2 separate regions of the Homo sapiens genome follow, and region 1 is linked to region 2. The links come from fine-mapping of genetic effects on gene expression. A gene starts in region 2. The other region holds a variant in brackets. All regions are shown on one strand. Distances are between the middles of the regions. Region 1 has its middle 49 kb from the start of PRDM11. Region 2 holds the start of TP53I11 (tumor protein p53 inducible protein 11).

The links. PIP is the estimated chance that this variant, and not a neighbour inherited with it, causes the effect.
Region 1: its variant is fine-mapped to the expression of TP53I11 in whole blood (INTERVAL, PIP above 0.99).

Annotation. Positions count from the first base shown.
Region 1 is chr11:45,091,562-45,103,383 of GRCh38, reverse strand. It overlaps a transcript of PRDM11 not described here. Among named protein-coding and RNA genes, the nearest start is that of PRDM11, 49 kb to the left of the region's middle. RefSeq lists a silencer at 32-326 and enhancers at 1,122-1,660, 1,661-2,201. The variant GA/A (reference allele first, on the strand shown) is at 5,354.
Region 2 is chr11:44,946,028-44,957,849 of GRCh38, reverse strand. It overlaps TP53I11 (tumor protein p53 inducible protein 11), which reads left to right and starts at 6,967. Exons shown (of 7, transcript NM_006034.5): 1 at 6,967-7,173. RefSeq lists silencers at 6,778-7,037, 7,068-7,197.

The DNA of each region.
Region 1 (11,822 bases), 150 kb before region 2:
ATCTCCCTCTCATCTTCCTCCTCTTCCTCCTCCAACTTTTCCTCCTTCACCAGTCCCCCCATTTGCTGTAGTTTCATATGTCTACCATCAGATGGCGCCAAAGGACCAACTGCAGAGTCCAGGTTGGGCTCCAAGGCCGGGGAGGAGGCAGGCCCGGCGGGGTGGTCAGGGTTTCTGGGCTTTGGGGAGGGATGCAGGGGAAAGCTGCTGGTGACCATCCTGAGTCCTGTCCAGTAGACATGGCAGAGGCAACTGTCCAGTGATGACCAGACAAGAGAATGAAAATGCAAGGCTAGGGCTCACGATTATATGAGCACTGGGCTGGGAGTAGAGAGACTTGGGTTCTCTGTTACTCTCATCACACTCTGAGTCAGCTTCCTGCCCACACAGTGAGTGGGCCTTCCCCCTCCAGGGTAAACAGTCCTGCCTGTCTCTCTGCATCTGCTCTTCTGTACATCAGGCCTGCTCTCCCTTCCTCGGTCGACCAGTTCACACTAATCAGCTTGGCAAGCCCAGCCCAATTGCTGCCATTCCCAGGAAGCCTTCCCTGACTGCTCTGGCATTGAACTGATTACCTTGGCTGCCCCTGTGCAATGGGCCAGGCACCACCTTCTGTGGCCAGAGGCTCGCCTGGCGTTTCCAGCATCCACCAGGGCGGCCAGCACAGGGCTGGGGGCCCAGGGTGTGTGTCACAGGTCATCTGGACCTAATGGACTGGGATGGCAGGGGGGAAGGAGGCTGTGGCACGGTGCAAGGGGGGCTGGACCTAATGGACTGGGGTGGTATGGGGGAAGGAGGCTGTGGCACGGTGTGAAGGAGGCTCCCACAGAAGACGTTATTGCTCTTCTACTCCCTTCCTGGGAGTGGCTGGATTGCAGAGGGCAGTGTTGGGGCCCCAGCTGGGGTGCTTCCCCTCATGCCGGCCCCAGGGAGTGCTGCAAGGCTGAACTTTAGTCTTTCCTCATCTGTGTCCAGCTAGCATCTCCCCGGGAAAGCCAGCTTTCCAGAAACTAAGACAGGAAGAGCCTTTGGGGATCATTAAACACACATCGGCCCAGGTCACACAGGCTTTCGGCAAAGAGCCTGTGACTCTGCTCAGCCTCCAGCTCTGAGCCCTGAACGCCTTCTTCTTCCTCCGCTCAGCCTCCAGCTCTGAGCCCTGAACGCCTTCTTCTTCCTCCGCTCAGCCTCCAGCTCTGAGCCCTGAACGCCTTCTTCTTCCTCCGCTCAGCCTCCAGCTCTGAGCCCTGAACGCCTTCTTCTTCCTCCGCTCAGCCTCCAGCTCTGAGCCCTGAACGCCTTCTTCTTCCTCCGCTCAGCCTCCAGCTCTGAGCCCTGAACGCCTTCTTCTTCCTCCGCTCAGCCTCCAGCTCTGAGCCCTGAACGCCTTCTTCTTCCTCCGCTCAGCCTCCAGCTCTGAGCCCTGAACGCCTTCTTCTTCCTCCGCTCAGCCTCCAGCTCTGAGCCCTGAACGCCTTCTTCTTCCTCCGCTCAGCCTCCAGCTCTGAGCCCTGAACGCCTTCTTCTTCCTCCGCTCAGCCTCCAGCTCTGAGCCCTGAACGCCTTCTTCTTCCTCCGCTCAGCCTCCAGCTCTGAGCCCTGAACGCCTTCTTCTTCCTCCGCTCAGCCTCCAGCTCTGAGCCCTGAACGCCTTCTTCTTCCTCCGCTCAGCCTCCAGCTCTGAGCCCTGAACGCCTTCTTCTTCCTCCGCTCAGCCTCCAGCTCTGAGCCCTGAACGCCTTCTTCTTCCTCTGCTCAGCCTCTAGCTCTGAGCCCTGAACGCCTTCTTCTTCTTCTTCTTCTTCTTCTTCTTCTTTTTTTTTTTTTTGAGACAGAGTGTTGCTCTGTCACCCAGGCTGCAGTGCAGTAGTGCAATCTCACCTCACTGCAACCTCAGCCTCCTGGGTTCAAGCAATTATCCTGCCTCAGCCTCCTGAGTGGCTGGGACTACAGGTGCAGACCACCATGCCCAGCTAATTTTTGTATTTTAAGTAGAGACAGGGTTTCACCATGTTGGCCAGGATGGTCTCGATCTCCTGACCTCGTGATCTGCCCACCTCGGCCTCCCAAAGTGTTGGGATTACAGGCGTGAGCCCATGACCGGCCAAATACCTTCTTTTGACACTTGAAGGAGACCTCCCAGGTCTGAGGACTGGGCAAGTCTCTGCTCTGCAGCCTGACAGCACCCCCTCCCTAACTGGAAGTTCTCCTTAGCTCTCTCCTCTCATGGAACAGACACACCTCTCAGCCCAGTAAGGTGACTAGGGTGCAAGAAGTGTGGGGAAAGGGAGAAGCTGCTTTCCCTGGCTAAAGTCCTATTAATCCCCACCCCCCCACTTCCAACACACACACACAAAGCCACAATACTTGTCCCTCTGTTGGAAGACTCTGGAGCTGGTTAAGAATACAGCATTTGGATTAGATATCCCTGGGTGCAGATTCCATCTCTGCTACTTATTGTCTGCATGACCCTGGGCAAATACTTAAACTTTGTAAGTTTCTTCTCTGAGAAGTGGGACTAACCCAGTTCCTACCTCAAGCTGGTTATTGTGCACATCCAATGAGAGAAAATATGCAAAATATATAGCACAGGCCTGGCCCATAATAAGTGTTCAATAAAAGGCGGCTTCTGTTGTGGCTTATGAGCTCAGTCCCAGTGAGAAGCCTCAGTTCCATAAAGAAAGGAACTGCCCGGTTGAGGATGGGAAGCTGTTGACTGGCTGATGGGTATGCAAATAACCTCTCTGATGTCAACATACCACGGACCTATGGAGGAGAGGGCTGCTGCTCAGGGTGATCTCACCAGCCAATCAGCAGCAGCAGATGATGATGAGCACCAGTGGGTGGGTATGGCTTGAGAAGGGGAGGGAGGAAAGAAGCAGCAGACAGACAGAAGGACTGGGAGTTCAGGGCTGCCAATCAGGACATCTGGGCTCCCAGCTTGACTCTGAAAATGAAGAGCCATTTGTGTAGGCTGTGAAAGGCTGAGCATGAGTTTCTTCACCTATGACATGGGGTGGCCCCTCTGCCTATTTTTTTCTCCTGGGGTGAGTGTGAGGATCACCCCATCACTCTGATGGATAGGACAAGGTTCTGAAAGGTACAAAGAGGTCTCAGTCACTCGGATTTTAAGGACAATTAGCGAATCAGTATGGCTGAGGGATTGCTCTTAATTACTCAAACTTTCAAATTTCATTTTAGCCCTTGGATGGAAATATTTTTAGAAATGTGATAGAGTTCCCGACTTTATTACATAGTGTAATTGATGTAGGATGTGTTGATGCATTCAGAATCTGCCAAATGATGCCATTTTATGATGCTTAAAAAAAATAAAAAATCTTTGGTTTCCCGACATTAGCTAGCATCCCTCCCTGCTGTCACTGCACCTGCCTCTCAATTCTTCTCCCATCCCATAAAACTTTCTACTTCTAATCTGCTGTGAATTTGAGAGTCAGACCTACAGCTCTGTCAGAACAGCGGGTGAAGTAAGAGTAACTGGGTCCTGAGACAGGCTGAAGAGCTCACAAGTAAAGTGCATGAGCTTCAGAATTGGCAGTCTAAGCTAGAAAGAATGCATAAGACCTACTATTTGATAGCACAACAGGGTGACTACAGTAAGTAATAACTTAATTGTACAGTTTAAAATAATGAAAACACTGTAATTGGATTGTTTATAACACAAAGAATAAATGCTTGAGGGGATGGATACCCCACTCTCCATGATGTGATTATGGCGCATTGCATGCCTGTATCAGAACATCTCATGTGCCCCATACATATACGCACCTGCTATGTAGCCACAGAAATTAAAAATAAAAAAAGTAAAAAAAAAAGGCAGTGTAAGGCAGGTGCTTCCTCACTCCTGGTCTTGGCTGTGGACCCAGGAGATGTGGGGCCAGAGCCTGTGATTTTTTTTTTTTTTTTTTTTTTTTTAAGATGGAGTCTCACTCTGTTACCCAGGCTGGAGTGCAGTGGCACGATCTTGGCTCACTGCAACCTCCGCCTCCCGAGTTCAAGCAATTCTCCTGCCTCAGCCTCTGGAGTAGCCGGAACTACAGGCACACATCACCACACCTAATTTTTTTGTATCTTTAGTAGAGACAGCGTTTCACTGTGTTGTCCAGGCTGCTCTCGAATTCCTGAGCTCAGGCAATCTGCCCACCTCAGCCTCCCAAAGTGCTAGGATTACAGGCGTGAGCCACCACACCCGGCCCAGAGCCTGTGATCTTAATCTCAAGGCCATCAGGCATCGCGTGCCATTCCTGCTGCTCCACTGCCCCTGCCCCAGTCTAGCCTTCCCTCCCTCCCTCAGCTGGCTTCCTGCAGTAGCCCTCTGGCTAGACATCCCTCCTGCCAATGATCCCTCTCCAGTCCACTTCAATACACTATCAGCCATTTTCCAGAATCTGATTACCTTCTTTTGTTGCTTGAAACACTCCATTGACTCTTTAGAGCTGCAGAATCCAGCTCAAACTCCCTTGCTTAGTACAACACTCCTCAGGAGCCCACCCTTGGGGGTCTTCTAGCCTCACCTTCGCCCGCCTTCCTGTTCCCACATCCTCTGTGTGGCCCTTTCCCATACCCACTATGGAGCACTACCTTTCTCAGGCTTCACAGTGCTATTCTTTCTGACCTCCCCCAACTTCCTCACCTGGGAAAATACAACCCAGGTGTCACTCCTTCCAGGAATTCTCCATTGCCCCTTTCTAGACTTAATTGAATTGTTCCCCACCACCACCCCATAGTCATGGTAGTGGTTAAAATCATGGATCCTGGGACCTGACCACATGGATGCAAATCCCAGCTCTGCCTCCTCATAGCTGTGCGAGCCTGGGCAAGTCACCTGGCCTGGTTTCCCACCTGTAAAGTGGAACTAGCATTAGTAGCAACCTCACTGACCTCATCTCATGCCAACCTCTATCTCGTAATGATTGGTTTCCAGTCTCCCCGACTAAGTCCAAGCTTTTCAAGAGCAAGCACAGTCTCCATTCATCTGTGCTCTTCCTTCCCTGGTGTCTGGTGCAGAGTCAGGTACACATCCCCTGCTCAATGATGGCCAAATGCAGGAATGGATGTCAAGGCCAACATTGGCCAGAGGGTCCTTCCTTAGCACACAGGAACACCCAGCACTGTGTGAGTTTTCCTTGCATGTCAGTCTTCTTCCTGGCCCCAGATGATAAGTCCCTGGGGATGAGGGGAACGAGGCCATCCCCTCCATCAGCTGTGGTGCTAGTCACTGGGCCTGATACTCTGAGGCCTGGGTGGGTTCCCTGAAGGTGCCGCTAGGGCACTGTCCATGGTGCTGAAGAGCTCTGTCACGTGACTAATTCCTCCTTCTGAGATGGTAGTTGGG[GA/A]GTGAAGGGATTTGCTTCAGGGCAGCCACGAATGGATTTTTCATCTCCAATCCCAGCCAGCACATTTTGTTCTGACATTTCTTTGGCACCTTTGCCAATGACGTGACGGTGCCTGTGCAGCTCTTTCCCCTGCCTTCCAAATTCCTTGGAGAACTGTCATATTCCCCACTCCCCACTTCCTCCTGCCACTGCAGGCACCTCCAAACATGAGTGTATCACCCAGAGATGTGGACTGAAGAGAGTGGAACACAGCCTGTGGCCCCAGTTGCCAACAAGGCGGCTCCATGCTTTCCGTAGCCTGCTTGTCTCACCTACAGGTGGTCCTAAGCCCTGGATGTGTCCCAATAGCTCCGTCCTCAAGGACAAGCTAAACAGGAAAAGCCTGGCCAGAAAAAATGGTAGTGAAAATAAATTCTGATTCTATGTGTGCAGTAGAGTTCAATGGTCTGAGCATCTGAGCGACACTTGAGTTTGAATCCCATTACCCCTGTGTGATCTTGAGTGATTTGTTCCACCCCTGAGCTTCAATTTCCTCACCTGTTAAATGGGAGGGATGAAAGCTTTCCCACAGGATTGTGGTGAGGACAAAATTAGACAATGTAGGTAAATGTGCTGGCAATTCTGCCGGCATGTAACAAATGCTCACGTTTGGTAGCTACTATTCCTCAGACTTTACTTGATAGAGAAGCCTGTGAATTTCAGACTGGAAGGGAACCTAGTCCAGTGCCTTCAGTTTACATACAAGGAAATTGAGGCTCAGCCAGGTGAAGGACTTGTTTAAGGTCACATGGCCAGTAAGGGAGAGGACTCAGGAGAGCAGGGGAATCTTCAAACTTGTGAGCTATTGATGCATTAAGTCACCAGGATGCTGAAGTTGGAGGTATGGGGGGCTGCATACAGGATGAAGGTAAAGGTGCTTTCTATTTAGCTGCAGGAAATATCCTTGATTTGAACCTTAAAACCAAATTCCCTGGCCTCATCTTCATCCCATTTACCTCTCAGCCACATTTCCAGGTTGGTAGCCTCATTATCCCCGTTTGCCAGATGAGAAAAAGGAGGCTCAGAGGAGCAAGGAGACTGGTGCATGGCCACGCAGCTGCCTCCCTGCCAGGATTGGCATGAAGATCATGTGAGATGAGCAGGCAGGAGTTCCTGAAACAGGCCTGGCAGAGAATGTACTTGGAAATGACAACGTTCCCTTCTCCCTCCTGAAGGAGTCAGTCCTCACATTTCAGAGTAGAAAAAGGCATTTCTGTTCACGCTACCCAGTGCCTCTGTGATTCCACAGGCTTCTAGCACAATCTCCTCAGGAAATAATCAGAAAGACACTAAAAATCAAAGCCAGTGAAGAGGCTGCTTGGGAGGTGGTGCAGAGTTGCTTAGCAAGCAGGTGAGAGAATAAGCTGAATGGGAGGCTTTAGGAACATCTGAGGATGTCTTTTATCTTCGGAGAGCCTGGCCAGAATAATGAAAACCCATTGGGCTTGATTCAAGGCACCTGAGCTTACATCCCAGGACCCTGCCTGCACCCCCACAACCCTCCTGCTTAGATCTCTGGGATCTGAGATTATGTCACCTATAATCTCACAACTTCAGTTTCTAGATGTGAAAAAATGAGAGTAACAATTTGTACCTAAAAATGTTAAGACGTGTGAATGAAATGGTTTACCTAAAGCATCCAGCACGGTGCCTGCACACAATAGGTGCTCAATAAATGTCAATTCACTTCTAGTCCTTTCATTTCCACCTATATTTATTCACCAAGGATTTATTGAGCATTTACTATGTGCCAGGTGCTGTTCCGAGTCCTAGTGATCTGGCAGTGAACATGGCAGGTGCCTGCTCTCATGGAGCTTTCATTTTACTGGCAGAAGTCAGAAAGAGAAAGAAGCCCGTAACAAACAAGAAAATGGAGCTATCAGCGTGTGCTATAAAGAGTTTTCCACTTGACAGTGAGAAGGAGTGGAGGGTGGTAATGTTAGACAGAAAGGACAATGCGGGCTTTAATGAGAAGATGACAACAAGCAGGGGCCTGAATAAAGATCTGGAGGAAGAGTATTCCAGGGAGAGGTAGTAGCAAGTGCAAGCGTTTTGAGGAGCCCCCACATTAGCAGCTTAAACAACTTACTTTCTCTCTCTGGTAAAGGAAGAGAGGTGAGCATCTCAGGCAGGCCCGGCACTCCACGATCATCAGGGATGCAATTGGCTCTGCCATCTTCAACATTGAACCCTACCTTGTGACCCGAAATGGGTGCCCCAGCTGTAGCCATCGTATCTGCGGCCATCATAATCTGCATTCCAGAGCAGAAAGCAGAAGGGTTAAAAAGAGAATGCCTTTCCCCAAGAGGACATGTCCCAGGGGTTGCAGTTCTATTGCATTGGTCAGAACTTTGTCACATAGTGACATGTAATTGCAGAGGAGTCTGGGAAATGTGGCCTCTACTCTCAGCTGCCATGTGCCTGACACCAAATTAGGGGTGCGTTCATCAGGAAGAGGGGAGAATAGATGATGAGAGACGGCTGGCCATCTGTGCCACAGTGACAAAGGCGAGACTGAAACCCCACGTCCTGACTCCCCAGCACTGTCTCTACTGCCCTTTCCCATCTCCTGTCCCCAACATGATGAGCAGATAGCAGCGGGGAGCAAGGCCAAATGTCAGGGGATGCCTGGGGAGATCAGGCTGAGGGAGCTGAGGGCTGGAGGAAATAAAAGGAGGAGGTGGGTGTGGAGGGGTTCCAAGGGGGAGCTGTTACAGAGGGAGGCCCAGCTGTAGATTCCTGTCCCCACGGCTTAGAAGGGCTGGCAGCTGGCTTTGAGGCCCATGGCAGGGAGACATCGCTGTCACCTTCTTTTGGGGGAGGCAGCCAGTGACACAGCTTCAGACAGCTCCCTATTGTTCCCAGCAGACAGGGTGGCAGGTTGGCGGGATCCCACTGTGGTGGCAGGTTGGGGAAGGGCGTTGTTAAGCAGTTGGCAAGGCCAGCCGGCCCAGTTCCCTGCCCCCATGCCTGTGCTGGTGGCTGGACAAGGGCAGTGGTGGCTCCAGACTCTGTTTATCTCCTTCTGCCAGGTACTGAGCTGCCAGTGTCTCCTCATCTCCCTCCCTTCCTTCCCTCCCTTCCTTCTTTCCCTTCCTTCCTTCCCTCCTCTCTTCCTTCCCTTCCTTCCCTCCTTCCTCCCTTCCTTCCCTCCTTCCTCCCTTCCTTCTCTCCTTCCTCCCTTCCTTCTCTCCCTCCTCCCTCCCTTCCTTCCCTCTATTCCTTCCCTCCCTTTCTTCATTCCTTCCCTCCTTCCCTCCCTCCTTCCGTCTTTTCCTCCCTCCCTCCCTTCCTTCCTTCCTTCCATCCTTCCATCCCTCCTTCCTTCCTTCTTTCCTCCCTCCCATTTTCTGCTCCCTCTACTTCCTCCCTTCAGTCCTCCCCTCCCCTCCCCTCCCCTCCCTTTCCTTCTCCTTTCCCCTCCTCTCCTCTTTCCTCCCGTCATATCCCTCTCTCCCTCTTTTCTTCCTGCATGTTCTTCCTTCCTGCCTTTTCTCCTCTTCCCCACCATGACTCACTTCCTTCTCCTGCTCTCTCAGCCTCCCCCACCCCCTCCCAGCCCATGCCCCACTCTGGGGTCCCTCCATGCAGCTGGGGCAGCACTGGGCAGAGGACATTCAGGGGCAGCCTGGGTGGCAGGTCGCATCTGTCCCGGGCCCTTCCCAGAAGCCTCCTGTTTCCTGTCCAGCATCAGGTGTTAGGAGAGGTCATGGCACCCCATCGTCTCACCTCCTGCTACCTGCCACCCACTACCCTGTGATTCCAGCCCACCCCCAGAGGAGGACAAGGGACTCACATTCATTGAGCTGCAACTGCATGCTAGCTACTTGCATGGCACTTCAATTTACTTAAGCCTCCCACAGTCCATTGAGGTGGCTTACTCTTATTCCCATTTTATAGATGAAGAAACCGAGGTTCAGAGAGGCAGAGCAGTGTGAAGCCACACGGTATGCTGCCGGGAGAGATGGTCCTCAAGACAGCTGGAACAAGGTGGATCAGAGGCTCCTGCTGTCGGGGCCTCCCAGTGCCAGCCCTGACTCCAGCTCTGAGCCTGATGCTACTTTCTGGCCCTTGATCCCATGCTTGTTTGGTCACTCAGCCCTCATCTTCAGATAAATCCAGGAGTAAGGAGAGAAAGAGAGACTGGGACCGCAGGAGGTACTCAATGATCTTTGCAGTAGGCCCAGATCTTTGCAGCCAACTTCTTGGTTCCTCAGTGCTGCTCAGCCTGAAACTCTCTAAATAGCCTCTCTCCCCCCACAGCCACCCCAGCATACACAGATACACACCCCACACATGGAACAGCTAGAGCACATGTGGCCTCCCACACCGCCGCTTCTGTGGGTGTGAGGGCGTAGCTGTCGTGGTGATGGTGGCAGCAATGGAGGTGGTGGGGTTGTTGTAGTGGCAGTGGTGGGGTAGTGGTGGTGATGACAAACAGCATATCATTTAGCCACACATAAATCTACAAGATACATAGTATACATGCAAACTATAAAGAAAAGCTGCACAATGATTAACACTGAGTAATGACAAATTGTGCTCACAGATAGATAACGTTTCCAAGAAACCACAAACCACACTCATAGACACAGACCAGGCTAACTGTGAGACCCCACCAGTGAGTAAGCACCGGTGAAACACCCCTTCCTCTCCACTGCCTTTCTGAGTGACAGTGGCTTGCTCACCAGACAACGCCGGTGCGGTTTTAACCCTCCTGCCTCCAAGATCAAAATTATTAAGTGCCCATGCACTCAGTCCAGAACTGGACTTGCTTTCCTGGTTTTCCTTGGAATCATCCAGCCAAGCCTAGATCTTCTCAGGGGCTTTCCAGATCCCTTTCCCTGAGACACCACCGAGGTTTCCCTGCGCTGTGCACTCCCTTGCAGCGACAAGCTTACGAAACCTCCCATTTTCTTACTGCAATCATGTTCTTGGGTCTCTGGGCCATGGGCTTCCACAGCACAACACGGAACCCAGTGGTTAACCTGGGCAGGGGGATATGGGGCAGCCACAGGGTCAGGGCAAGCGTGGGCTTGGAAAGCATTGGGAAGGTTTCTTAGGCTGGGTTTCTTAGTCTGGGCTTATACAAGCCTTCATTTATTATTATTTTACGATTTAACATAGTCTTTTAAATGTGCGTACGTTATATAGATTATTTTATATGTATGTTTCACAGTAAAAAGTAAAAATAGGCTGGGCACAGTGGCTCATGCCTATAATCCCAGCACTTTGGGAGGCCAAGGTGAGATGTTCACTTGAGCCCAGGAATTCAAAACCAGCCTGGGCAACATAACGAGACTCCATCTCTACCAAAAAAAAAAAAATTAGGCAGGCATGGTGGCACATGCTTATAGTCCCAGCTACCGAGGAAGCTGAGGTGGGAGGATCACTTGAGCTTGGGAGGTGGAGGCTGTGGTGAGACATGATTGCACCGCTATGCTCCAGTCTGGATGACAGAACGAGACCCTGTCTCTAAAAAAAGAAAAAAAGAAGTAAAAATTAAAAAGTTAATAAAAAAGAAAAAAACAACAACAGACGCCATATTCTTGCCAGATGCCCAGGGAATGACTCTGGCCTTTTTCCTGGGCCCCATTGGCCTGGGACCAGCAGAGCAGCCCTGGGGTCCTGGAGGAGTCAGGGCTGGTTCTCAGGACTGGGGCGAGGCCCTCTGAGGGGAGGAGGTCTGACCAGCAACTTGCCTTCCCCTCCATTCAGGGCCTTCCCCACATGCCCGGAATTCCTGACCTGGCCCTGGTGCTGCCTCCCTTAGGGACAAGAGGTGGGGGCCTTTGAGTGTTTGTTTAGAGGCATAGTTTCCTTAAATGGCTGGGTTTTTAAAAAATGTATGTGCCTGCAGCTAACTTCCTCTCCCTGACAGCCAGGGCATCGGATGCAGGAGGGCAGGCAAGAGACGGGAGGGGGCTGGGAGGAGTCCAGGGACGGGGGACAGAGGAGCCAGAAAGCTAGGCAAGGAGGCAGCTTCTAAAAAGCCTTGGGACCCCCCTTCCACTTCAGGAAGAAGGCACAAGGCCCAGACAGGGAACATGAGAAGCACGCAGCAGGCGGGCATTCCCACAGCAAATCAGGGACAACCGTGGGAATGCCAACCTGCTTATTTGTTTTTATTTCTATTAAGTCTTTTCCTGCCTCTGAGCCTTGGCACCTGCTGTTCCTTCTGCCTAGGCCCCCCTTTCTTTGGTTCTTCTAGTGACAAGCACCTTGTCGCTCTCCAGGTGTGAATGCTACTTCCTGACCATGCTTCCCCTATCCACACCAGCCCCTCCCACACCCCCGATTGTTATTTACATCATCCCGCTGAATGAATGAAGTCTGCAAGCTATGGAATAGGTAGTTGTAGGTTTCCTTTGGAGAGGAATCTGCTATATCTTAAAACAGTGATTTCTTCTGTTTTTTCAGTTTACTTTT
Region 2 (11,822 bases):
GGGCTCAGCGTTTGCAAAGGCCAGGAGGGTTGAAGTACCACAGCATCTGGAGAAACTGTGGCAAAAACCGATCCGTGGTGGTTATAAAGACCCCTTGTGGCATCCAAGGGAAAAAAATGTGGGCTTCGAAGCTGACAAATTTGGGGATTCAAAACCCTGGTACATGAAGCCAGCCCTTTCTGGGCTTCAGTTCTCCATTTTAAAAATGGACTACCTCACAGAGGTTGCCCACAGAAGTCGCGCAAAAAGTTGGTCATTTCTCTCTCTCCCCCATCCCAGGGTGAGAGTGGGGCAAGGATGGGCGGTGGTGAGTGGCGGAGGGGAGGCCCTGGGTCAGCCCTGGGGTCCTCTGGGTCTGCAGATCTGCCTCCGGGGTCAATTCTCCCGGGTGGGCGGAGGTCTGCGCCCTGCCAAACCGGTGTTAACCCGCCCCTTGACCGCTGACCGGTGCGTGGGAGGAGGAGAGCACCAGGTGAAGGGCTGATGACTCTCCAGCAAGTGTTCCCTCCATCCGCCGCCGGCTCGGATCCCCAGAGACCCGGATCGCAGCTTCCCTGCTGGCCGAGCCCCCAGCACCCGCGGCGCGCCCCAGCCCTCTGCTCCTCCTCGGAGCAATTACATAACGACGCCTCTGGTGGGTGGCGGAGAGGCCTTCTTTGTTATTGCGATCCGCCTCGGCAGCGGCCCCGCTGTATTAATAAACCGATCACTCAAAACGCCAGCCTGGGCTTTATGTATGTAGATTTGGGTTGGGGCGCCTCCGAGGGAATTATCCACGCTGCCCGCTCCTCACCCAGGAGGGAAGGAGGTGGAATCCCTTCCCTCCCCTCCCCTCTGGTCTTTCACCCTGCCCTTCAGCTCAGAGTCCCTCGCCCACCCACCTTGCTCAGCAGCCCGGTCCCAGGAGGGCAAACAAGAATATTCCAGAATCAAAAAGTGTGGGTTCCAGGCCCATCTTCACTTCCCTGATGGGTGATAGCTGGCAAATGGAAACTCATTAGCCTTACCTGTAAAATGAGCCGAATAATAGCAAAGTGCCCATTTAAATTAGATAATCTAGGAATCTGCTTTGCAAATTCTAAAGCAATGGTTCTCAATCTTTGGCTTGTATCAGAATCACGTGGGGGGCTGTTGGACGACAGATTGTTGCCCCTGTGACTTCCTTTCCCAGAGTTTCAGTTGTCTGAGGTGGAAATGAGAATTTGTGTTTCTAACATTTTCCTGCCCCCAAGTAGGCTTTGAGACTCATACACTCTAAAGAGATTTATAAACTAGAATCTATTTGTCAGATGTTCCTGTCGGTCCGCAGGTGACTTACTGTCCCCAAACTGTATGGCTTCACTGGGGTGGGGGTGGTCCAGGAGTGGCAGGCCTTACAAGGGATCAGCAATGCCTGCCCTGGCCAGCGGCAGCACCAGAACCACCTGAGCTCTGGGCCAGACTGCCAGGGTTCCAGTCCCACCTCCCTGCTTTCTAGGGTGTGATCTTGGGTAAGTTATGTAACTCAGTGGGCCTCCGTTTTGCCATCTATAAAATGGGACTAGTAATGGTACCAACTTCGTGAGATTTGTTAGGATTAATGACATGTAAGATTCTAGACCAGCGTCTGGTACATAGTACGGGCTCAGAATGCTATTTTTTGAAATAATGATAAAGCCCCTGGGGTTTTATCATTGGACAGGAGGCAAGTGAAGCGGTGGCCATTGGCCTAGCCGGCTGCCCAGGGTCCAAGACTATGATCCCACAGCCCAGAGTGGCTGCTCTGGGCACTCACTGTGAAGAGGTCCTGGGGGTCGCCCAAGATGAGGGTCCAAAATCTGCTACTCACTTCCCTGCATAGCAATTCTTTTCTTGGCCAGGGCTCAGCACTCTGAAAATCTGGACCCAGCCTGAGGTTCTTAAGTCAGCTATGCTGACAAGGGGTACTCCATACTCCATCTGCCCTGAGTTTTGGAAGCCGTCCCTTCAGTACCAGCACAGAGCAACAGTGTCCCAGGCCTGCGATACAAGGTCCACAGACATCTCCCCGACTCTCCCAGCTGGTGGAGGGTGGATTTCTTGCAGATGGCCACATGCACACAGCTCACCGCCATTTCCACATGTCCATTCATTAATTGAGTCAATGAACATTCATTGAGAACTGACTGTGAGCTCCGGACTCACATGTACTATCTCACTTAACCCCCCAGGTACCCTATGCATCATCATGATTTTCTTCTTTCCATTTGGCAGATGAACACGCTGAGGCTCAGAGACACTGAGTTACTTGCCTAAGGCCACAGAGCCGGTTAGAAGAGGACTAGGACCTTGAACCTAAATCCAGGATGGTTCTAGTGGCTAAATCCCACTCTCATACTGCCTCCTTGAGCCCTCCCCCACAGGAAGCAGGAAAGGGCTGGCCATGGTCTTCTGGTCCCCTAGCTGTCATACACTTTCTTTGGGGAGATCTGAGCCTCATTTCTTCCACCCCCATCCTGATCAGTTCTCTCTCCCACAGATAAGAAACTGCTTGACATTTCCTGGTCCTGGTGTAGCAACAGAGGTGGTGGGGATGAGTCACTGGAGGGAAGCAGCTGGCAGTTGTGTGGGGTCGGGGAAGGAGGGCTGGTCAGTGCTCACTCTGGAGGGGTGGGGGCAGGAAGCACTGGGGAGGCCTGCCTGGGAGTTCCTGAGCTCCCAGCTGCTCCTTCCAGTCCCCAAAGCTATGTGTAACAGAGTTCTCCTCACCAGGCAGGTTCACAGAGAACGAAGCTCTGGAGGAAATGAGAGGAAACCAGGAAGGGGAACCAGAAGCAGTTGTGAAAGCCCAGCTCTCTGCCTCAGTCCTTGTGTTGTGGGATGGCGGCTCCTTCTCTCTGGGTTTTGTGCCAGCTTCAATGAACCCTGGCTAGACAACTCTCACCCCAGAGCTCCCTGTTCCAGTTGAGAATGCACCAGCACTCCTGAGGCCCTCTCCCTCCGCTCCTCCCAGGCTGCCGCATAATAACACCAGTGGCACTGATTGATAACTGTCGATGTGCCTGCCCCATGTTAAGGGCTTCACGTGCAGCCTCTCTGCTAAACCTCCAATAACTCCCACCAGGTAGGCCCTGTTATTATCACCATTTTACAGATGAGCAAACTGAGGCCTAGAGAAGTGAAATCACTGGCCCATGGTCCCATAACCAGGACTTGAACCCAGATCTGTCAGGTCCAAAATCCCTGGGCTCAACCACAACAGGTCTCTGACAACATCATGTTCCTCCACACGTGCCCATCAGTGCTGAAACCTTTCCCCTGGCCCCAACCCCAAAGACTAGGCCCAACCCCCGCTCCGCAGGCCTCTCTCCTGCAGTCCCAGGTGATAACAGTAGTCTCACTCCAAGCATCTTTGAAATCCAATTACATCCCCATTCTTCCTCGTCCATAGTGGTTTCTGGCTGCAGACACTGGCAATCCCTGTGCCCACCACACCTTCCTGCAGGGGCACAAACACAGACACACAGGCGCACTCTTAAGTGCTCACTCACACCTGGCCACCAAGGAGGTGTTGCTGCCCCTGCTTGTGGAGGGCGACCAGGGCAGATGGAGCCCCTGCTGCTCCCAGGTTCCTGTGGGAGTCTGGAGGAGTGACCCTCCCACCCCTGCAACAGCCGCTGGCTGCTTCCTGGCTCCATCCCCAACCCCACTCCCATCCCCACCCCCCTGGGGCCTTGAGAGGAACACTTCACCAAGGTAAGAATCACAATAATAATGTCAATAATAGGAATCAGCATTTCCAGTTTGCAAACCTTTTTCATCGAATCACCTCACTTGACTCTCACAAGTTCTATGAGGCAGATATTTTTATATCCGTGCAGGCGAGGGTCGTATAGCTACTTAGGAGCAGAGCCAAGGTCCTAGCCGACTTATCTCACTCTCACCTAGAATAATGATGACTCCTCATTGTTACCGTGCACCAAGCATCTATTCTTGCCTGTCGTTAGGGGCACACTTAATGAATGTCAATGTTACTCCTCACAGCAGCCCAGTGAGGTGAGTTTTTTTTTTATGCCCAGTGTAAAGATCAGGTAACTCAGAAGAGTTGAGGGCAGAATGGCTGCCTAAGGGATGTTTCTGAACTGGACACATCACTTTAGAAAAGTATATAGGGGCCGGGCGCGGTGGCTCACGCCTGTAATCCCCGCACTTTGGGAGGCCGAGGCGGGCGGATCATGAGGTCAGGAGATCGAGACTATCCTGACTAACATGGTGAAACCCCGACTCTACTAAAAATACAAAAAATTAGCCGGGTGTGGTCGTGGGTGCCTGTAGTCCCAGCTACTCGGGAGGCTGAGGCAGGAGAATGGCATGGACCCAGGAGGCGGAGCTTGCAGTGAGCCGAGATCACGCCACTGCACTCCAGCCTGGGCGACAGAACGAGACTCCATCTCAAAATAAATAAATAAGTAAATAAATAAATGAAAAGTATATAGGGAGGAAGACAATAAGAGCCTCTAATGGGTGCTTTCTGGAGAGCGGATGCAGGGGGTTATGGATAGAGCCAGCTGCTTCTCCCCTGGTCCCCCTCCAAGCACTTTGCCTGTTATCTTGAGCGGTTACTGTTGCTGCTGTTGACTATCTGTGCAGTCATCTACAAGGGGGCTGTGAACTCTCCAAGGACAGGGACACTGTCCTGTTCACCCCTGGGGCCCCAGCACATAGCACCTTGCCTGGCATAAGGGTGAGGCACTGTCAGGATGGCCTCGTTCACAAAGGATGGTGGGGCAGCCTTGGCCCAGCCTGAGCTCCCAGCCTCCCCAGCTTCCCCGTTGATAAGGAGACTGAGAGAATACAGACACCCAGAGGGCAAAGGTTATCCACTCCAAATACCACTTAAGGTGGGAATTCTTCCTCTGCTGTCCTCATCAACCCTTCCCTGGATTCTGCTTGCATGCTGCTAGTGACAGGGCACTCATTCATGACAACTAAGGCAGCCTCTTCCATGTTGGAAAACTTGGAGTGATTGTGACAAAGGCCTCCCACTGATGTATGATCAGGCTGGCTGGGATTACAAGCACAGACCCTGCTGCTAGTCTTTAGGGTTACACCAAGCAGAGCACTGGCAGGTGTCCCCAAGTCTGGGAGGACATTGCACATGAATGACGCTGGGGGCCCTCCCTTCAGCAATCCAGAGCCCTGAGTGCCAGAAAGGCAGAAGAGGGAGTGACAAATGAATTCATCAACCCAGCTTGGCCCAGCTCTGTAAAGGCAGTGAGGTGAGACTGAGTTGTTGCAGAAATTACTATAGAGCCTTGAGTCAGATGGCTCCACCCAACACACCTTAAAAATAATCCTCATCTAGAGTCACATACTTTGATTGATTGATTGATTCATTCATTATTGGCTATCACTGTCTAGGTGTTTGGCTGGGGGCAGTGTCAGTGGCACTGGGGCATCAGAGTTTATCTACCTTAGTAATCAGGACAGTTTATATTCACTGAGCACTTACTATGAACCAAGGACTGTTCTGTTTACTTCCTTGCCAAGGGCACAGACTCTCCTGCCCAATCCCAGCTCTGGTGAGGACAGTGGGAGCCTGCATGGCACAGAGTCCATGCACAGTAAACATGAGCAGCTCCTATTAACTCTAAATCTCTACAGCAACCATAGCCGGTTCTTACTATTGGTTGCTCTAGGTGACTTACTTTGTCCAAGGCCACACAGGCACTAAAAGGCAGAGTCAGGATTTGAACCTAGGTGATCTGGTTCCAGAGCCTGCTCTATTAACCGTTAAGGAACTGGTGCAGACAGAACCGAGACCTGGAGTCAGAATGCCCACCTAGCTAGATGCCTGAGGCAGCCACTCACCTCTTTCTGTCTTATTTACTTGTGAAATGGAGCATGTCATCAGCCTTGCCTTCCTTTTCCCGCAGCCCCCCACCCCGGTTCCTGGCCCACTGTGACCATCAGATCAGATGAAAGAGATCCAGGCATTTCTCTAAGGAGAGCACAGGGTGGTGGGGGTTGGGGTGGGAGAGAGCACATTATTTTCCCACCATAAGGGGTTGAAGGAGCCCAGAATTTGGGGGTGGGGCCTTGTCTGTAGGAGCCTGGTTCTCTCAGGTTGACACGCCACCAGAGAGCCTCCATGACCCCCAACCCTCATCCTCACCCCAGCCCCCCATAGGATGTGTAGAGACAAAAGGTTTGACAACTGTAGCGCCAACAAGCGTCCTAGAGCCCCAGATAAGATCCTAGCCTCCTGACAGCGCAACTGACAGCAGCATCTCTGAGGCTGGATTTTAGGGTGGAGTATGAAGAAGGTGGCCGTAGTGACAGTGGGGTCATGTTATTTGGCCAAGTCACACCAAGCAGGGAGAGAGAAGGGTGGGCCTAGGCTGGAAGCCTGAAGGCTGAGTGAACTCAAACTTTAACGACCATGGCCTGTAAAATGGGACTAAGCACAGCGCCCTTATGGGTTGCTGTGAAAATCAAATGAGTTAATACTTGTAACTCCTTTAGCATATGGTGTCTGGCATCAGAGAGTGCGCAGCAAACGGTGACTATTGTCGTGACTGTGTTATTACACACTTGGGTATCACCGCCAGCCAAAGCAGTCCCTTCCATTTCAGGCACCGGCCTGGGCCCGGGAGACACCGCAAGGCTATTTAAGATGGTGTGGTTTGCCCATCTACGTTGATCGTCCCAAGAAAGGGGCACCGTCTGCAGAACTTGCCAGGAAAGTCATCCTGGGCGGCGCGGGCCACGCCAGGGTCTCCCCGCGCGGCTTCCTCCCCCGGCGCCTTCTCTCGGGCGCGCGTGCGCCCCCTGCAGGCGGCCCCCGGGAGAGCCTCGCGGGGGAGCCGGGAGCCTGGTTTCCCCGCCAACCCCCATCCCGCCCGCCCCGGCGGCCACCCTGGGGGCGAGGCAGCCCGGCGCGTGGGAGGGGACGGCGCGCCATTGGCTTGTGCGCGGAACCGAGAGGAGGGACCAGCGCGGGCCGCCAGACTCGGTAAGCCCCGGCCGCGCAGGGCGCCGCGCGCAGTCCAGCCGGCCCGGCCCTGCCCTGCCCTGCCCTGTCCTGCCCTGCCCTGCCCTGCCCTGCCCTGCACTGCCCGGCCCGGCACGGGCGGCGCGATGTGAGGCGTCCGAGCCCGGAGCCTCCGCCTGGCATCAGCTCCACGTAGCCCAGCGCCGGCACGCGCGAGGCCCGTAAGTTCTGCTCCCCGCCGCCGCTTCCGAGCCGCGGACTTTCCCCTCCCGCCGCCCGCCGCCTGCGCAGCGCAACCCAGCGGGGCTCCTGCGGCCGACGGGACCGCAGAGGGGCGGCCGGGACCCCGCGCGCGCTAACCGGGCGCCCCGGGACATCTCGGCACCCGCTGAGCCCGCTGGGACCCCAGGGGGTCGCCTCCCCAGCTCCCCAAGGCGCCGTCCCGCAGCCCCTTCCGTCTCCCCTGCGCGCTCTCCCCTCGCCGCCCCTCCCTCTGACTCGGTTTCCCCTCTCCCCCGGCTCCGCGGTCGCCCTCCTCCTGGACTGCTTATTTCGTCCTCGGCCACTGCCTCTCGGGCTCGAGCTTTCTGCTTCAGAGCAGGAGAGAAACGGAGCGAAAGCAGTTTCTGTCTCCCCGGGGTCTGACTCGGTCCCCCGCGCTCGGTTCTCTGTCCCCTCCCCCTCCCGCCATTGTTCCCGGCAGGAGGAGTGCGCGGCGCAAACTTGCGAGTTCCCCCAGTCTTTGCCCCCGCAGGGCCGCGGACGGAGGTGGTGGCGGAGTTCCCGCTGCCCACAAGTCTGGCCCGACCTTCTGGGGTGGGGGCCTGGGGGCAGGGGCCCTGGGCCGGAGAACCCGGGGCCGCCTAACGGCTCGGAGCTCACCGCCGGGGGACACCGGCGCTGAGGCCTGGGTCTCAGAAAGTGGGTGAGTGTCTGGAGCGGGGACATCAGGGACAGATTGCAGGGGGAGGGGCGAGGCTGAGAGAGTCCCCCGTCCCCAGGCTGGAAAGGGGCGGGCAGAAACCCAGGCCGCGCCTTAGCCCAGTTAGGGGGTGGGTAGGGGACGCACAGGTGGAGACGCCCCCCACTCTCCCCAAAGTCGCGCGATCTGCAGGAAGGGTACAGTGTGGGGCCACTGGCCGGGCGCTGGGTGGGTTAGGGCCCCTGCCGTGGGCAGAACACTCGCACCTACCCGGGGGAGGCTGTGTGGAGGAAGGGCCAGAACGCCGCGCCCACCCCGGCGCGCCCCGCTGGGCGGGGCGGGGCGGGGCGCTCGCCTTGGGTCCCCTCGCTCTACCTTCCTTCGCCCTGACCCAGTCTCGGGCTTCCGCCTCTTCCTGGAGCCCGGGGGGAGTGGGTTTCTCCGCCGGAGAGATGGAGGCTGGGGCAAGAGCAGCGCGGAGGCCAAGAACCCCCAGGCTCCTCCAAAGCCCAGAGCGGCTGGCCAAGGCCCCCTCACCGCCCCACTACCCTGCACTTCCTGATTGGTTTCTTTCAAACAAACTTCTTGACGGGGCGGGCCTGCGGGGAGAAGTCACCGGGGCTGCCCACCCCAACTATGTGGTCCCTTGGACCTCCACCCCTGACGGCCTGTGGAGAGGGGACCAGGATCTGCGGCCCGCAGATCCCAGGGACGCGGGGGTCGTTTTGTTGCAGAGCCAGGAGGGGGCACTGTCCGCTCCTTAGCCTCAGCCCCAGACTTCGAGAAAGGAGAGAAAAGATTTTTCTTGTTGGGTTGTTAGGAAATAAGACTATTCTCCAGGCTTCTGTTGTCCCATCTGTAAAATGGGTCGTCTTGTTCCTGAGGCCCCCTCTGTCCCCACCATCCCAGGAGGCCCCTGCCATGGCCGCTTCTTTCCCAGTCACATGTCGTCAACTTCCTCCGTGCTTCCAAATTTGGAGTGGAGGGCTAAGGCCGAAAGCCCCTTCACCCATGTCCAGCTGTCATGACCTGCCAGTTCTAGGACTGCGACCTATTTTCTGCACAGCTCTGCCTCCAGGCCCCTTGTGGCTTCTCCAGCTCACACCCAGCCTCCCAATTTCTTTTGATAGCCCCACCTCTGTGGGAAGAAGGGCCTGCCCCTCTTGGGGTATGGGGGAGGAGGGGGCTGGATTTAACAGGAATGCCCCATAGTCACACAGTTTGGGGCTGTTCTTTACTTTTGCTTATTGAACAAAATGTTTGTGAGCATTACACCAAAAATGGCTTATGGAGCAAAGTGCCAGGGACAGTTTCAGGCACTGGGGAGACAGCTGTGGACAAAATAAAAATTTTTGTCCTCATGGAGCTGATGCTTAAAAGCAGGGGGCAGGGGGAGGCAATTCCCTAATAAAAACAATAAGCAAATTATATAGTGTACTGAGAGGTGAAGGGGAAAAGTTGTGTTGGGGGTATTGAGGCCAGGGACCGGGTTGTCATTTTAAATAGGGTGTCAGGGAGGTCTCCCTGAGGAGGTAACTTTTGAGCTACAGCCTTGAGGGAGATGAGGGAGTGAGCTGTGTAGACAGCTAGAGCACAGCCCATGCAAAGGCCCTGAGGCTGGAATGTGCCTACCCTGCAGCTAGCAGGGAGTGAGGGGCTGAGGAAGAGTGAGTGACTGAGAAGGGATGAATTCCTCCCCTTTCACAGGTGAGGGAAGTGAGGCTCAGAGACAGTATGTCAGTCACCCCAGGACACACAGGCCAGGAGAGGCAGCTGCAGGGCGGGGTGCCTGATGTTCTGACTCCTGGTCCACGATACCTCCCCGGCACCCTGTGTCTCACTGTTTATCCTGCTACACTGGCTGGACCCCTCCCAGGGCCAGCGCAGCATCGTCCTCCTGCCCCAAAGTGACCCTTGCTCTCTCTCATCCCACTTCCTTCCTATGACCAGTCCCTTCTGAGCACCCAACTCTGACCTGGCACATGATCCCTAGAAGGGGACCTGCTCTGAGGCAGATTTGGTCAAGGGGGCAACTGAGGCAAGGAAGTAGAGTCTTCTAGTCTAAAAATAATGAGCAGCATTATTATTGAACATTAACTACAAAACAGGCGCTGTTCTGGATTTTTTTGGTGCATCTTCTCACTGGTGAGAGGTTGGTGTCATTATTACACCCCATTTAACAGATGAGGAAACTGAGGCCCAGGGAGGCAGAGTCACTGGCCCAAAGGCATACAGCTCATCAGTGGTAGAGCCAGGATGGAGCACAAGCCTTTTAAGTCATGAGCTAGTCCTTTAACCACTAAGCCAGCACCCCAGGATTGGGGAGACACTCAGTCCTGGACTATGGTTGTGGCCCATCTTATCCTGCGAAAAGGGCAGGGACCCTTCCACCTGCCTCCCCCAACTCACCCAGAAGACAAATCACCGCTTGCTTTTGAAGAAACGGGCTCAAAATGTGGAGCATCCCTTCGAGGAAGCTCCTGTCCTTTCCTCTCCCTTCCTCTCCCACCCTCTTCTCCCCTCTAAGTTCCTGAACAGCCACGGGGTGGGGGAGGGGCATGGGGAGAGTGGGGTGCAGGTCGGAGAGGGAGGTGCCTGCTGCATTCTCACCAGACCCCTAGCCCGATAGGATCTGGAAGTCAGGCTGTCCTGATGACGACACCAGCTGCCCTTGAGGGCCCTGACATGGTCACTGGGCCAAGGGGCAGGCTGGCCTATTCTCAGAGTCGAAAAGGACAGGAATTCTTCATGTTCTGCCCATGTGAATGACCGTCGAGACAGGAAAAACCTCCCAGTGACTTCTGAGCGGTGATGGAGGCCATCAGAGGGCCTGATCCCCTTGCCCACAGCAGCAGCTTCAGACCCCCGGGGGAGGAGCCCAGGAATGCCTCCTTCTTGCCACCTGCTCTGCCCTGACCTCTCGCCCTCTTCAGCACAGTAAGGAATGTTCATATTTGTCCCTAAAGCTTTGGAAATGTTTCTGATGAAAGGTTGGGCTTTCCTCTGCCTTTCTGGAAATTGGGCCCCTTCAAAAAGAAAGAGTAGGAAGATAGGACCTGTGTGCCAGTCCAGGCTGAGGGGTGGCGGGTCTTGGGGATGAGGCAGCTTGAGCTGGGGCCCAGCAGGGACCTGGAGTGTGGCCGCTGTGAGGCAGGGCTGGGAGGGGCCCTAGAGACCACATTCTCATTTTCTTAGACAAAGAAACTGAGCCCCAAAGACAGGGCCTGGCTTACCAGTGATGGCAGAATCTGCCTGTGACCTCAGCTGTCCTGTCTCCGAGCCCAGTGACTCAGGACACACTGCCACCTTCCAGCTCCAGGACAAACCTTCCACTACCAGATCTCAGGGCACATGTTCCTGGAGGTTCTTGGAAATGGGGCGTGGAACCTTTCTCAACTGCAGAGCTGTGTCATGGAGACGGGGGTTGCCACTGCCACGGGACTCGCATCCTGCGCCTGCCTCTCCCGGCCAGTTCCGCTCTGTCCTCACTCTTTGCAGCAGCCTGGACACTGAGCCCAGTGGTGATGCTGAGATGATGAGGAAGACGGATGCTGCAGCTCCGCCCTCCACTGGCTCAGGATCTGCTTGAGAGACAAGACTGACTAAGGCAGCCCCAGCCTTTGGAATAATGATGCTCTCGAGGGATGGCCTGATAGCAAGCCAGCTGGAGCCAGCCAAGGCCCATCCACCGGGTAGCCTCGCCTCAGCTTCCTCCTTAGCTGTGGGCCTCCGATGAAACCTGCACCCCAGAGGCCGCTGTGAGGATGTCAGTAGTGCAGCCGCTTTCATAAAGCCTCTTTTGTGTCCCATGACTTCTAGATTATCTCTCTAGCCCCCGGACAGCCTTGTGACTCAGGGACCACCGCCCCATTTACGGTGGAAGGAAGGGAGGCTCCTTCAAAGAGGAGTTTGTCTGCCCAAAGGCACGAGCCTAGTAGTGCAGAGCCA